Linked DNA regions of Homo sapiens. The protein of the gene in region 2 interacts with the protein of the main gene of each other region in a pairwise test. Each region holds a gene or a part of one and is shown on either strand. Other genes may lie near its edges. The genes, in order: PEX26, BMF and APBB2.

Region 1 (4,063 bases), on a different chromosome or scaffold from region 2:
CAGACTGGGACCACGTCTTCAGCTCTCATGGGTCCCAGGCTTCAGACTCAGACTGGAACTATGTCTTCAGCTCTCCTGGGTCTCAGGCTTCAGACAGACTGGAACCACATCTTCAGCTCTTCTGGGTCTCCAGCATAACCACTGCAGGTCCTGGGTTTCCCAGCCCCTATAATTGCATGAGCCAATTCCTTATAACTCTCAAGATACCACCTATTGGTTCTGTTTCTCTGGAGAACCCTAGTACAGTCCCCTTTTTGTAGATGAGAAACTGAAGTTAAGCCTAGGCTGTTTATGAAAAAACAACCACCCATATGATTTAGGCTTTTTAAAGAAATTATCCACATCTACTGCATTCCAGTTACTATGTGTGAGTGAAGTTCTTCTTGTATGAATTTTAATGCTGTGGGGCCATATAACCAAATATAATTACAGTTATGGCCTAAATAGTTGAGCCACATTCATTAGAGCAGGAGGTAAGATAATTTCTATCAATCACCCAGGAAAAGACTCTTGGCGATATTCATTATCTGTTCAATATTCCCCAACACTGAGCACTTTCTATATGCCAAACACTGTGCTAATGGCTTTTATTCCTCACAACAAACCTCTGAAGTTAAATTTTTATTATCCTCATTTTACAAATGAAGAATCAGAAACATAGAAACATTAACTCTCATTCCTGATCACATAACTGGTAAGAGCTAGAGCTGGGCTATGCTTCAGAGAGTCTGGCTCCAGAGCAGAGCTCAACTGGATCTGGAAGGGCAAACCTTTCATAGAGAGGCTTGTCCTTGTTCTCTTAGGTTAGACTTCAGAGTTCCAATATCCAGGATGCTGCTCCAGGATGGTGGGTGTTACAGATGGAGGTCATGATGTTGAGGGAGGCTGGGAGCCCAGAGGATGAGACACAAGAAAGATCTCTTCATTTCCAGGCACCCCATTGCTGGGGTGAGCCCATGAAGTCCAGAGAGCAAACGATATCTTACCATTAGATTATCTAGATTCAGGTACTTGTCATATGTATTTAACTTTGGTTAGCCCCAAGTACCTTACATACATTCACCCATGTGTCTCAGATGCTGCAGGGGATTAAGGGAAGTTGAGGGTGAACCATTTTGGCCACTGGATCACAAACAAATTGGCTCGCCTTTAAGGTTTACATGGCTGCAGCAGCCGCAATCAAGAGATCACCAAAGAGGAGGTGAATCATGGGACAAATTCCCCTGGGAGGGGTGGAGCTTTAAACCAACATCAGGCAGATGCAAAGAACTCAGCAGAAACAGGAGGCAGTGAGAACAGGAGGCAGTGAGAACAAGAGGCAGTGAGCACTGGGAGCGGGAGTCAGTGACAGACTGTGCAGAGAACACTGAGGCTGGGAACTCAGGAAAACTCACCTCCTGTAAACAGGAGGAAAGGCCAGCCTGTGGCCTCGTGACATCCAAGGCTCTGTCACAGATGGGTAACCACCTTCCTCCGCTACCAGCTCCTAAAAGAACACCTAAAGAGGCGGGTGCGATGGCTCATGCCTGTAATCCCAACGCTTTGGAAGGCTGAGGCAGGTGGACCACCTGAGGTTGGGAGTTCGAGACCAGCCAGACCAACATGGAGAAACCCCGTCTCTACTAAAAATACAAAAATTAGCCAGGCGTGGTGGTGCATGCCTGTAATCCCAGCTACTCAGGAGGCTAAGGCAGGAGAATCGCTTGAACCTGGGAGGTGGAAGTTGTGGTGAGCCGAGATCGCGCCATTGCACTCCAGCATGGGCGACAGAGCGAAAAAAAGAAAAAAAAGAGCACCTAAAGGTCTGTGTGGGATAGACTAGGAAAGATGAAGCCGTCGGTCATCCCCTCCTGCTCTTGGTATTGTGTAGATGATTAACTGTTCCCCTTTCTGGGCATTTTCCTCCTAACCAACACTGAAACAACTGGTTGAATAGTCTCATTTTTTCCAATCACTTCACATATTGCTATGAGTATTGCAAAGTACCCAATCTTTCTGGACCACGTCCTGGCAGTATGTTGGAAGAGCAGAAAAACTGATCTCTATCAATGTTGTAGATCCACTTTCAAAAACCAGCCCAAGAGAAAAACCCAGAAAGAAAACAACTACTATCGTCTTAACTGTTCTACTCAGCCCTTGGTGATTTCACAGCACTTTCATATGCAATCTGTTTACAGCTATGTTATTCACAATAGCAAAAAGTTGGTGGTGGTGCATGTGGGTGTTGACCGGGCTGGGCCAAGAAGCCTCCTCCGGGCAGGCTGCCAGGCTCTCACTGTGGCTGTGGCTCTGTATGGGACAGAGACGGGGCTGAGCTGGCCGGGCTGTGGGCAGGGTGGAGGGCCACCAGCCAAAGGACAGTTGGAGGAATCGAGCTTCATGCTGTCCTTCTCTTCTGCCTCTGATACAGAATTTGATGTTGTGGTTGGATATATAGTACACATTATCATGGATGACATGTTCCGGTTATTATAGAGAAATTTTGTGGACAAGTATTACCAGGAGTTTGAAGACATGGAAGAAAATCAACTCACCTACATGCCTGCTTTTTGATAAATAATATTTGTACATATTATTGAAGTAGATGTGACATTTCATTACATGCATAGAATGTGTAGTGATCAACTCAGGGTATCCAGGATACCCATGACCTTGAGTATTTCTCATTTCTATGTGTTGAGAACATTTCAAATCCTTTATTCCGTCTATTTTGAAACACCCAATACAGTGTTAACAATGGTCACCCTATTCTGCTATCAAGCATTAGAACTCACTCCTTCTATCTATGTTTGTGTCCATCAAGCCACCTCTTCATCCCACATACACACCCTGCCCAGCCTCTAGTAATTGTCATTCTACTCTCTACCTCCATGAGATTAACTTTTACATGCCTTTTTTTTTTTTTTTTTTTTGAGATGCAGTCGCACACTGTCGCCCAGGCTGGAGTGCAATAGCACGATCGCACGATCTCGGCTCACTGCCACCTCTGCCTCCTGGGTTCAAGCAATTCTCCTGCCTCAGCCTCCTGAGTATCTGGGATTACAGGCACACGCCACCATGCCCAGCTAATTTTTTGTATTTTTAGTAGAGATGGGGTTTCACCGTGTTGGCCAGGCTGGTCTCGAACTCCTGACCTCGTGATTCGCCCGCCTCAGCCTCCTAAAGTACTGCGATTACAGGTGTGAGCCACTGCGCCCGGCTACATGCCTATTTTTAATAAATGTATTTACTTGACAGAAAAGTATCCTGAAGGACACCTACTGGAGCGGATTGCTGGATTTAGCACATGGCCTTCACAATATTAGGCATGATAAAGATGAAGGGGCTGGTGCCCTTCATCAGACAGAATTTGATGCTGTGGTTGGATATGTAGCAGACATTACCATGGATGACATGTTCTGGTTATTATAGAGAAATTCTGTGTACAAGTACTACCAGGAGTACTTGGTGCCATAGGCCGGGGACTAGACCTAAGCGATAGTTTAGCGGTGACTTTGTTGAGCAAATCATCTTCTATGCCAGCTTCCCCGAACAAGCTGTGGCACTAGATCCCACCTCCAGGCAAGGAAGAGGATCATCCTGGATGTCACCAGCCCACTGGCTTGGAGAGGCTGCAGCTATTGAGGATAGAACAATACATCTTGGAAAGACTGACTGTTCTGCAACTCATCATTCATGTTAAGTATTAAGGGTCAAAAACAAATGGCTTGATGTGTTTCTCCTGAAACACCTTCTTGTGTTTAGTAACCCTAGTACTCCTCCCATCTCTCAGGTGCTTTTGAATCAGACTGCTGTGGGGCAAACCCATGCCCAGCATTCCACCTGAGGCCCTTCTGCCAGCATACATTCAGTGTGTCAACAGTGTGGAATAACCCACTATCATGAGTCCTCTTTGTCCCAGCAGCTTTGGCATGAACTTTTTTTTCTTTTAAATGAAGAGACGCACATTTTAGTGATTTTCCTTGTGAAATTGCAAAGACTAGAAGAAAGTTAGACACTGACATCTCCATACCTGAATCTCTACCCACTCCATCTCACCCACCACCTGCTTCACAAACTTCCT
Region 2 (2,401 bases):
ATAGGATCAGGAGTAGTTTTTCCCAAGGATTTTCAGAACTCTGTCAAGAGCTTTAAATCACCGCTTTGAATCAGACACATTGTTAATCCACAAAGAAATGCAAGCCAGGAAGTCCCCCTACAACTAGCTTGCCTCCTGAGGGGCTACCCTGATAGAAAGGAGGGGTGGGGTAGTGTGTGCGGGAGGGGCTGCCGGGGTCCTTTCCCTCACTGGGTCCCAGTGGCAGACAGGCCCTTTTGACACATTCCCTTTAATCCTGCAAGGCCGGCACAGTCGTATTTCACACGTGGAAGAACTGAAGGCTCAGAGAGGTGACATAACTTGCCCAAGATCATTCAGCTGGAGGAGGAGGGAACCGGGTCCAAAACCTGCATCTTTCCCCCTCACAGGGCCTCTGCTGTGCTGCCTATCGCGTGGTGGTCGGAATCACTCTTCTCAACTCCAAGAGGGGAAAGGAAATCACGGCGAAAGCTGAGCGCCTTCAGGTCACTCAAGCTGGCAGCTGAGAAAGCTAGAAGGCTTTAATTTCCTAACTGATCTCCTTGCATTTTTACCACACCTTGAAAAATAAAAGACCAGATTTGCTTTAAATGATTTTATTAAAAATTGTACCAATTGATGGGGGGAAAGATATACACACATACACACATATGCATGTGAAGAACATAAACACATAAAGCCAAAGGCTCTGTACAGTTTTTTAAAAAATGGGGCCCCTTTCTTCTTCCTCTCTCCCAGAGGCAGAGTGCCCAGACCCCAGGGCAGCTACCCTGGGGATGAACAAAATGCTACATTCTCACTGGGTCTCCTCGATAGCCCCTGTGGATCCAGGGATGGGGTAGAAGGCTAGCAATGCTCCCAGAGCAGGGAGGGGCACTGGCCACCTGCACAGAGAGAGGGGGCAGTGGGGCTCTGAGCACCTTTAGCTGGGAGGCTGGCTGGGCACCTATGAGCTCAGCTTTTTCCGCTATCCCCTCAAGACTCAAAAGTCCCCACCAGCCCTCAGGCTGCCTAAGGGTGACAGGTGAGCCCCTTCCTGCTAGGGTGTCTGGCCAGGATGGCCTGCTTCCAAGAGTCCTCACCTTCACACACAGAGCTGTTTCCAGCCCAGGCCAGCACTGATTTGCAGAAGGCCTGCAGAGCCATGGTGACCAAAGTCTTCCCGCTTCTGCCACGTCCCTTCTGCCTACCCCACCTCCCCATCAAGTCCCTCAAAAAGAAGTGCTCACTGGGGTAGCATGCTCCTTGCTGTCCAGGACAGTCACCGTGGCTCCACAGCACTCTTCCTGGGAGGCCCTGGCTGAACCATCCCGAATAACCCCCAGGCAGGGGCCACCTGCCGATGGGGCTGGGCTGCCAGGAGCAGTGAGACAGGTCAGCTGGGCCCCTCTGGGTCCTTCAAACAAGCCTGCCACATAGCTTTGGACACAGACCTACTCCCCTGGGGGCTGAGGGAGGTCACTGGGAGGTGATCTTTTTCCACCTCGGATTGAGCAAGAGAAGGCTGCCAGTGGCCCAGACTTTGAAACAGGCCAGGCAGAGGCCAGGCTGAGTCCTCCACCCTCATTGCAGGAGTCCAGCGTCTGGCCTGGGGACTTCCCTCACCAGATCTGTTGACCAACTTCTAGAAACCCCTGCTTTGGGGTTGTGAATTAGAAGGGCTGTTTTGACCCTGAATATCAGGCTTCCCTTCCTCCCAGGCATTTCTTTCCCGAGGAGGAAGGTTTCCAGTCCCTCTCCCAACCCCCACCCTCAGCAAGCCACAAAGCCTCCACCGTCTTCAGCTGGTTACAGGTCAGGATCCAGGTCAGACTCTCCCTCCCTCTAAATCTGATTCTCCACCCCTCGCTAGAGACAGCCAGGCTCCTGGGGGTGGGGGATGGAGTCTGAGGGGGTGGAGGTCGGGGGGGAGGGGCAGGTCTCCTGAGGCTAGACTTGAGGAATGTTTAGGCCAACTCACCAGGCAGAGGAGGAAGGGGCCAGTTTAGATCACTAAGCCAATTAAAAACAACCAGCCAGAAAGAACCTTTCTCCTTCCTGACAGCTACTCTGCCAGCTACCTCCTGGGTTTTGTTGGTGGGGAAGAAGGGAGAGGGAAACGTGAGGGGTGTAAATTTTGCCCTGGCTCACTTAAGACAGTGAGTGAGTTCCTGGCTTTGCATAAGATGGAGACAGTGCAGTCAGACCACCTTCCACCTGCCCCAGGCTTGATGTTGAGGTGGGTTTGTCAAAGTCTGGGCTCAGTTCTCAGGCCACAGGGCACCCAGCCTGGGCCTGGCAAGGTCTCTGAAGCTGATGGCCTTGCCCCAGCACCAAGATCTAAATCATTTTCTCTCTCACTGAACTCAGGTGGAGAGTCTGCCAAAAGGGGTGAATAGTGGCTGCTGTAAATAATCCCGGT
Region 3 (3,656 bases), on a different chromosome or scaffold from region 2:
TTGTTCAGGCACAGTGGCTCATGCCTGTAATCCCAGCACTTTGGGAGGCTGAGGCAAGAGGATCACCTGAGCCCACAAGTTCAAGACCAGTAAGACCCCATCTCTCCTCCTCCAAAAAAATTAGTTGGGCATGGTGGACGGTGGCATGTGCCTGTAGTTCCAGCTACTCAGGAGGCTGAGGCAGGAGGATCACTTGACACCAGGAGTTCGAGGCTGCAGTTAACCATGATTATGCCATTGCCCTGTAGCCTGGGTGATCGAGCGAGACTCTGTTTCAAAAAACATAAATGTATTTTTAAATGAATAATTAAGCTGCCTCTTCCCTTCACCCCAGCCCCCTTTCCCAGTGATGACCATTACCTTATGTTTTTATTTCCTCTCAGAAAATGTTTGAGTCATAGATCCGCATATTAATAATAAATTTTAAGACCGGCATGATGGCTCACGCCTGTAATCCCAGCACTTTGGAAGGCCAAGGTGGAGAGATGGCCTGAGCTCAGGAATTTGAGACCAGCCTGGGCAACATGGTGAAACCCCTTCTCTACTAAAACATTAAAAATTAGCCAGGCATGGTGGCGGGTGGCTGTAGTCCCAGCTACCTGGGAGGCTGAGGCACAAGAATTGCTTGAACCTATGAGGCGGAAGTTGCAGTGAGCCAAGATCCCGCCACTGCACTCTAGCCTGGGTGACAGGCGAGACTCCATCTCAAAAAATAAAAATTAGGCCAGGCGCAGTGGATCACCAGGTCAGGAGTTCAAGGCCAGCCTGACCAATATCGTGAAACCCTGTCTCTACTAAAAGTACAAAAATTAGCTTGGTGTGGTGGTGCGTGCCTGTAGTCCCAGCTACTCGGGAGGCTGAGGCAGAAGAATTGCTTGAACCTGGGAGACAGAGGTTGCAGTGAACCGAGATTGTGCCACTGCACTCCAGCCTGGGCAACAGAGCGAGACTCCATCTCAAAAGAAATTTAAAAATAAAATTAAATTAAATTAAAATTAAAAAAAAAAACAATAATAATCAATTTTAAAATTTACCCAAATGTTGTGATGATGTTTTTAGAATCCCTATGTTTTAGAGATATATACTAATATAAAATACTAATCTATGTCATAGTATAACATATATAATACAGTATAACACATACTGATGGAAACAATATTGTGTATGGTATTTTCTCCAAAATAATTGGGATTAGAAGGATAAAAAAAGAAACAAAATTGCCCATAAGCTGCTGATTGTTAAAGCTGCATTATGGGTACGTGCGGGTTCATTATTCTATTCTCTAATTTTGTATGTTTAAAATTTGCCACAATAAATAGTTAAAACCAGGAAAAAGTTACTCCAATTAGATTGTTTTATGAATGCTTTGCTTTTTTTCACGTAAGAACGTATTTTGTAGATCAGTCCATTTTTCTACGTCAGTCTTTTTAAGTATTATGTATACTATTCCACTATATACAAGTTCCACGATTTATTTAGCAAGTTCCCTGCTGATGAGTATTTAGGTATTTCTGTCCATAGCCCCTTGGCTTATTGAGTGCTGGTGTCAGTAGGGGCCTGTGGAGAGGGCAAAGTTTGTGCACTCCAGTCTACCTACTGGGACTCTTGAAATGTACACGTTAACTCCCTCTTTCCAGGAAGACTTTCAGGGGCCCCTCTGCTGTGACACTTACCACTCATTTGCTCAGTGTCCTGACATTACTTGCTGTTGGGTTTCCACAGAACATCTTACAGTGCTTGGCCTGTGATGAGAACTGGATTAGAGTTTTTTTTACATGTTAAGAAGATATGCTTAGTTTTCTCTCTGAAAGTTGGTTTTGACAGGATGATGGTGGCCCTTGATAAGTTGCTGAGGATAGGTATTTCAAATCAAATATGCTCGAAAAAATGTATTAGCTGTGACCGAAAAGCAATGAGATTGTGTTTTTAAAAAATATACTAGAAGCCAAACCTATGCCAGCCTTCAAAATGTTCACTTGGGATCTCTGCACCTGCTTCAGCATGTTGCACTGTCTCAATATTAATAGTCATAATTTTGGGAGTCCTCTTTTGGAATTGCCTCAGAGTCTGCTGTGGATCCCCATGAAATGAAATCACTTTGCTTTAATCACACTTCAGGTTTCAGGTAATACATAGATTGGTGAATGAAATAAAATAAGCAGTTTTTTAGCATTGTATTTCTTTTGATTTCATCCTTCCTGTGAAACATACTGTTAGTGTTTAAAATAATCATGATCAGTCTAAATTAAACATTGTATGTTTCACTTGTAATGATAAAGTTAGTGTTTATTATGTATGTTTTATATAGTATATACATGTGTATGTGTATATATATAAAATAAACACAAATACCAACAGTTGAAAGAAAAGAGAAAACGAGAGCAAATATCTTGTGACATCTTAGTATGCCATGCCATAGTACATGTATAAAAAGGGTATAGTTGTCTGTTGACTTGCTGTGTGTTAAATACATAGTCATCACAGTGGTGTGTGTTTTATGACTAAATCATGATGCAATTATCTTTGGATCGTAGACTGCACTTTGGGGAGCCTAGAAAAATAGACTCATTTCTACCTCAGGGGCATCCTTTCCAAGTTAGAATGCTATTTATACAATAAAATGCAATGGCTAACCTAGAGACTGACTACTTTCTATTTTCCTTTACTACTGAATCGCCCCCTCCAGCTGTTTAGTAACTTCTTTTTGTACAATCAATCATGTATACAATATGTGGCTGCCCTTTTCCTCCTCTGTAGTCTGTCCTTTAAGAAAACAAGAGGCTATTTGAAAAAGGAAAAGCATCTGTGAAATGACTATTTTCATAGGAGTTTAGAAAAGTTAAAGAGTGCCTTGGCCCTGATTCTAAAAGAAAGGTTGTATCTTGCTACTGCAAAGTGAGAACTTTGAATCTAGTTAGGGTTTTTTTCAAAGATACAGTTCCCTCAGTGGCCCCAGGTAGTAAGCATGATGGCTCAGATAAATAAATACCTGTTGGTCACACTGTATATAGTCTCTCTGTTAATCACTTAGTGTTTCATGTTTGCTTTATGAAAACGTTGAAAAGATGCATCATTTTGAACCTTCCTGGGTACAGGTTTCAGTGGTACCCACATGTAATTTTATGTTTAGTTTGGGATTTAATAAAATTGAAGACACAGAGTATGAAACTAGATGGATCTTGTGTAGTAACTGTTTCAAAATCAGATTCATTGCTAAAGTGTACAAAAGCAGAATTATACACAGAGAAAACCAAGTCCCAAGTCTAGATGGGTGTGGCAATGCGCCTCATGATCCATTAACTTATCATTAAGAGCATAGGCTCTAGAGTGAGCTTCCTGAGTTCAAATCCCAGCTCTGCTATATCTAGGCAGTTCTCATAGCCTCTCATCTATAAAATGGGGATAAGAGTGTTTTGGCATAGACCTGCTGTGAAGATTAAGCGAGAGCATCTTCAAAGAGCTTTTAGGAGCAGTATCTGGCATATAGCAAGAGCTCAATGAATATTCATGATTATTATATTAGAGACAGTATCAGTACAGTGGTGTGTTATAAAAGTTTGCTTTTCTCTTAATTATGAATTACCTATATTTTGGACTCTGAGTTACGACTTTCTGGACCTTAAGAGCAAGGGTTGGTTCATCTTCATCTTTGTATT

Evidence for each region.
Region 1: the proteins of BMF (region 2) and PEX26 interact in binary tests that used the Homo sapiens proteins (3 or more experiments, as listed by UniProt).
Region 3: the proteins of BMF (region 2) and APBB2 interact in binary tests that used the Homo sapiens proteins (3 or more experiments, as listed by UniProt).

Annotation. Positions count from the first base shown.
Region 1 is NC_000022.11:18,101,942-18,106,004, reverse strand, and holds the end of PEX26 (peroxisome assembly protein 26), read right to left. Parts: 3' UTR 609-4,063; downstream 1-608. UniProt on the Homo sapiens protein: Peroxisomal docking factor that anchors PEX1 and PEX6 to peroxisome membranes. PEX26 is therefore required for the formation of the PEX1-PEX6 AAA ATPase complex, a complex that mediates the extraction of the PEX5 receptor from peroxisomal membrane.
Region 2 is NC_000015.10:40,087,310-40,089,710, forward strand, and holds the end of BMF (bcl-2-modifying factor), read right to left. Parts: 3' UTR 581-2,401; downstream 1-580. UniProt on the Homo sapiens protein: May play a role in apoptosis. Isoform 1 seems to be the main initiator.
Region 3 is NC_000004.12:41,008,501-41,012,156, reverse strand, and holds part of APBB2 (amyloid beta precursor protein binding family B member 2), read left to right. Parts: intron 1-3,656. UniProt on the Homo sapiens protein: Plays a role in the maintenance of lens transparency, and may also play a role in muscle cell strength. Involved in hippocampal neurite branching and neuromuscular junction formation, as a result plays a role in spatial memory functioning.